2 separate regions of the Homo sapiens genome follow, and region 2 is linked to region 1. Evidence: fine-mapped expression QTL. A gene starts in region 1. The other region holds a variant in brackets. All regions are shown on one strand. Distances are from middle to middle. Region 1 holds the start of LMNTD1 (lamin tail domain containing 1). Region 2 has its middle 130 kb from the start of LMNTD1.

Region 1 (2,920 bases):
GACATATAGAGCTAGGCTTTAGGTTCATATAATTCTAATCTTTTTTTTTTTTTTTTAATGACGGAGACTGGTTCTGTCACCCAAGCTGGAATGCAGTGGCACGATCTCAGCTCACTGCAACTCCACATCCCCGGTTCAAGCGATTCTCCTGCCTTAGCCTCCAGAGTAGCTGGGATTACAGGCACCCGCCACCACACCCAGCTGATTTTTGTATTTTTTTAGTAGAGACGGGGTTTCATCATGTTGGCCAGACTGGTCTTGAACTCCTGACCTCAAGTAATTCACTCCCTTTGGCCTCCCAAAGTGCTGGGATTACAGGTGGGAACCACTGTGCCTGGCCAGATAATTGTAATCTATTTTTCACCTGCATGAATGCCTAGAAAGGCACGTGTCATGTGGGAACACTATTTACTAAGTAGGATTATCTGCCACATTGTGGAAAGTCTAGCATCTCTGGGTTCTGTCTACCAAATGCCACTAATACCCGACCCGAATCTTTAATGACTACTATCAACATCCTCTTACATTTACAAAATGCTCTCTATGGTTCACTTTGGCCCCTGTTGAAAACCACTAAATTAGTTTAAGCAACAACAAAAGAGGAAATTGGTTTTCATTGCATATATACAGTAATTTAAGAAAAGGAAATAAGAAAAATGTCTACTATGGGGAATGAGTATTGAAACACTCACAACTTCAAAGCCTTCAAAAGTTTTTCTCAGCTGACAGAATTTTATTTCTCCAAAATATGTTGGAAAATATGAGCAGGCTCTCTGATAAAACCAATGAGGTCATAACGACTTTATGCTAATATATGCAGTTCAAGTAGAGAAATTTTTAACAGCTAGAAAGCCATCCAGACTGGTACAGGTAGGGAGACTGGGAGAGTGACAAGAAATGACAAGCCCATTTTTAATTCTTTACTAAGCGTAAGTAAAAATTTATAAACCTTCTGATGCTATATTTACATAATTGGCCCATAATGTTCATAAGGAATTGTGCTTCATCTCTGAGAGGGAGGAAATACGGTCAAACGTTTACTTCCTTTTAACTTACCTTATTACGTGTTACACGTCTTGACTTTTTCTTTTTGGCTTTTTAAGACAGTTACTTTATTGTCTTTAAAAATCATTTTCAAATCTATATTAGAAGATATTTTAGTATTATTTCTGAAAGCAGGTATTGTTTATTCATGGTACCTAGCCAGTTTTTAAGAAATAGTAGAATCTTATTAACTATTTTTAATAAGCTTACTCATCCAGTAATCATCATTTATATATCTTATTACTGTATATAATCATGTACTTTCATAGTTATTAATTTTATTGCCATACTATCATTATCATGAAACATTAAGTGTGAGTGTTTTACACAGAGGAGAAACTGAATTAAGTGATTTCTTCTAAATCATACTGCTGGCATAACTAGGAGAAGAATTTAGGTGTTCTGGCTTTGATTTTATGATTTCTACCAATAGACTTCTTTTTGCATTGAAGTTTTATGGTTTCTATTCTTGCTGCCTAGCTGTTTCCATGTGCTCAAAGTATTTGTCCAGAGAGAGAGAAAGAAAAAAAAGAAGAAAAGAGTTGTGATTAATTTCCCCAGTATGTACATACTGGCCTTGACTCTTAGAAATACAAAACAAGATATCAATAATTTTGGTGGCAAAGTCTAGTGGAAGATATGGCTTTCCTAAGAGCAAATTACTTTATTTAATGTCTGCAAACTGCAAAGAAGGTACAGCATCAACATAGGAATTGTTCAGAAACTGGAACTTGGTTACTATGGAGACATTACCTCATAGTTCTAAGAGGCAGTGTTGGCCAGAAGCAACAACTGTAGTCATAAAGGTCTCTTTGCCAAGTTACTGCCCTCTCAAGCTGCTTCCAGTGAATGCTACACACCTGCACCATGGTTTGTCCGACATCCTTAGCCAAGATCAGGATTGGCTATGTTGGTACTTACATATCCTCATGAGAATTGTGGTTCTGGTACTAGTTTGGTAAAGAAATTATTAAACCTAGCTGATGCTTGAAGGTAGTTGGATTAACAGGTGAGGTCACTTTGAAAAGAAAAATCTGCCTTGAACCTCAGCCATATTCGTCATCTGATGTCATGATCTGCTTTCCTAGGAAAGAAAAGAGACTTCTTTTCTAGCCAAGATGAAAGATACACAAGACATTCAGGAAGCTTCGAAGGCAATGCAGAATAAAGTCCATGAGCAGGAAGATAAGAATGAGAAACAAAAACAGTGAGCATGCATAGATGCGATGGAAGCAGAGTTAGAGCTGAGTTATAGAGGAGGAATGATGGCATGCTTGACCTCTTTTGTTTCAATACTCTTATGAACCAGTTAGAACTAGAATATATCTCACAAATTTTCTAGAAATAATGGACTGTAGCATACAACTACTTCCACAACTACTGTTTTAGAAGGTTCTAGTCCTTGAGAAGTATAAAAATCCACCTGGACAGATCTCCATAGTATAAGACCTAGCTGAGATTCCAGCCAAAGTTCCGTTTTTTTTTTTTTTTTTTTTCAGACAGAGTGCAGTGGCGCGATCTTGGCTCACTGTAAGCTCCGCCTCCCGGTTTCACGCCATTCTCTTGCCTCAGCCTCTCGGAGTAGCTAGGACTACAGGCGCCCGCCACCACGCCCGGCTAATTTTTTGTATTTTTAGTAGAGACGAGGTTTCACCGTGGTCTTGATCTCCTGACCTCGTGATCTGCCCGCGTCGGCCTCCCAAAGTGCTGGGATTACAAGCGTGAGCCACCGCGCCTGGCCTCCAAAGTTCCCATTTAATATGTTAAGTCAATTTACAGAAATAGTTTCTTTCTAGAACTATTTTACAGAACTGGGGACAAAAAAATTACCAGAATATTGGTTTTGGAAATGTCCGTAAGAATGTTATATAAAATT
Region 2 (2,920 bases), 130 kb before region 1:
CTTTTCGGAACACATCTAGTCTGCGAAACAAGACTGGGTATAAATTCAGAAGCCCCCGACCCCCCCGACTCAGGAATTTAACAATCAGCTCTCTAACCCTCTTGCCTCTTCTCATTTGCTAAGTGAGCAGAGGGTGTGAAGTGTACCTTTAATGCCTCTAGCCTATCCTTTCCACCCCGTGACCTTTTCACCCATCTATTCCTCAAGGGGAGACTTCACTATGCTAATATGCCTTATGGGTCTCTGAGTAGGGAACCAAAGCAAACCGTGTTCCTGTTGTCTTTCTACCCAGTTATTTTTTTCTCCCACTATCTTTGAAGTAATGCGTGCTAAGGGATCATCTGATAACCATTTAAGGTGACAAAAATGTTGAGTCTCAAAGGAAAGGAACTGTGAAAGGACAGGCAAGGGCGTCAAGGATTTTATGTATGTACCCTCCTCAAATCATAGCACGACACATTGGCTTCCTGCTTTTAGTTTTAGTCTTGTTCCGTTAATCTAGAGCCACTGGAGTGAGATTTTCACAATGATCTTTTGAGGTAGCATGGCAGGTGCCTTTCATGCAGAAGCTTATAAAAACTTACAATTCTAACAGGTAGGTACTTGCTATACAAAAGAGGAAACATGGCTGGGCACAATGGCTCATGCCTGTAATCCCAGTGTGTCCGAAATTGGTGGGTTCTTGGTCTCACTGACTTCAAGAATGAAGCCGCAGACCCTCGTGGTGTGTGTTACAGTTCTTAAAAATGGTGTGTCCGGAATTTGTTCCTTCTGATGTTCGGACGTGTTCGGAGCTTCTTCCTTCTGGTGGGTTCATGGTCTCGCTGGCTTCAGGAGTGAAGCTGCAGGGACCTTCATGGTGAGTGTCACAGCTCTTCAGGCAGTGCATCTAGAGTTGTTCATTCCTCCCAGTGGGTTCGTGGTCTCGCTGGCCTCAGGAGTAAAACTGCAGATCTTCTCGGTGAGCGTTACAGCTCATAAACACGGTGCTAACCCAAAGACAGAACAGCAGCAAGATTTATTGCAAAGAGCAAAAAAACAAATCACCCACAGTGACAAGGGGACCCAAATGAGCTGCTGCTGGCTCAAGCAGCCTGCTTTTATTCCCTTATCTGACCCCACCCCCATCCTGCTGACTGGTCCATTTTACAGAGAGCTGATTGGTCCATTTTGACAGGGTGCTGATTGGTGCATTTACAATCCCTGAGCTAGACATAAAAGTTCTCC[A/G]AGTCCCCACCAGATTAGCTAGACACAGAGCACTGATTGGTGCATTTACAAAGCTTGAGCTAGACACAGAGTGCTGATTGGTGCATTTACAAACCTTGAGCTAGACACAGAGTGCTGATTGGTGCATTTACAAACCTTGAGCTAGACACAGAGTGCTGATTGGTGCGTTTAAAAACCTTGAGCTAGACACAGGGTGCTGATTGGTGTATTTACAATCCTTTAGCTAGGTCTAAAAGTTCTCCAAGTCCCCACCAGATTAGCTAGATACAGAGTGCTGATTGGTGCATCCACAAACCTTCAGGTAGACACAGGGTGCTGATTGGTGCATTTACAAACCTTTAGCTAGACATAAAACTTCTCCGAGTCCCCACCAGATTAGCTAGATACAGAGTGCTGATTGGTGCATCCACAAACCCTGAGCTAGACACAGAGTGCTGATTGGTGCATATACAATCCTCTGGCTAGACATAAAAGTTCTCCAAGTCCCCACCTGACTCAGGAGCCCAGCTGGCTTGGCCTAGTAAGTCGCCTGCCAGGGCTGCGGGCAGAGCTGCCCGCCAGTCCTGCACCACGCACCTGCACTCCTTAGCCCTTGGGCAGTCGATGGGACCTGGCCAGCGGAGCAGGGGACAGCGCCCATCAGGGAGGCTCGGGCCTTGCAGGAGCCCACTGCGGGGAGTGGGGGGCTCAGGCATGGCAGGCTGCAGATCCCCGAGCCCTGACCCGCAGGGAGGCGGCTGAGGCCCGGCGAGAATTCGAGCATGGCGCAGGCAGGCCAGCAGTGCTCAGGGAGCCGGTGCCCCCTTCCGCAGCTGCTGGCCCAGGTGCTAAGCCCCTCACTGCCTGGGGCCCGCAGTGCTGGCCGGCTGGCCGCTCAGAGCCCATTTAGCTGGAAATACTGTGTAGTTATGGTGTGTAAATGGGCAAAAAGAGACTAGTTAACAAAATATTATCAGGTTATAATTTTATACATAGTAATAATTGAGTCTTTCGTTACTTTACAGATCAGTACCAATGAGAGAGATTGACTCGTTTCCTAGGCTGACCACCCATCTCAGTTTGCAGGACTTTCAGTGCTAAAATTGAGAGATAATTTACTAAAAACTGATTATTTGCAAAGATTGTCACTAACACTCAGGTACCACATCTATGTGATCTTAACACGTTTTTAAAGTTCATTCAATACATTAAAGGAAAGTTCATTACACAGATTATCGATAGTGTAGTTTTGATGTAGAGTGAAGCATTCTTGTGCATTAGATGTTAATGGTATGGTTTGGGATCTATCAGAGACACAACAAATATTTATTCTTAGCAAGTCAGAGCAGAGGGCAGTGTTGTTAATCTGATATTCACCCCTTAGTAATATAGGCCTGGCCCAAGAATACCTGTGCCAATTCTACGGCTGATAGGATGGATCCACCAGGGAGGCAGAAAGCACCAAGATTCAAGGTTGTAGCTGCCTCCAGCAAATGGGCAGCCACCAAAGTCCATGATGCAAGTCTAGAGAGATTAACAGCCTGCATCCAGTTGGCTTGTGTAGAGGAATTAAGGTGCATGCAAAAGTAATTGTGGTTTTTGCGTTGTTGGAATTTGCCATTTTATATTAGAATACATTCTTAAATAAATGTGGTTAGGTTATACATCATTTTAATGGGCATGCCTCCCTTTATGATTTTTTGCTAATGGCTTA

The links.
Region 2: its variant is fine-mapped to the expression of LMNTD1 in testis (GTEx, PIP above 0.99).

Annotation. Positions count from the first base shown.
Region 1 is chr12:25,552,202-25,555,121 of GRCh38, reverse strand. LMNTD1 (lamin tail domain containing 1) reads left to right here and starts at 1,839. Exons shown (of 10, transcript NM_001145728.2): 1 at 1,839-2,053; 2 at 2,133-2,251. The coding sequence starts at 2,163.
Region 2 is chr12:25,685,521-25,688,440 of GRCh38, reverse strand. No RefSeq gene overlaps it. Among named protein-coding and RNA genes, the nearest start is that of LMNTD1, 130 kb to the right of the region's middle. The variant A/G (reference allele first, on the strand shown) is at 1,228.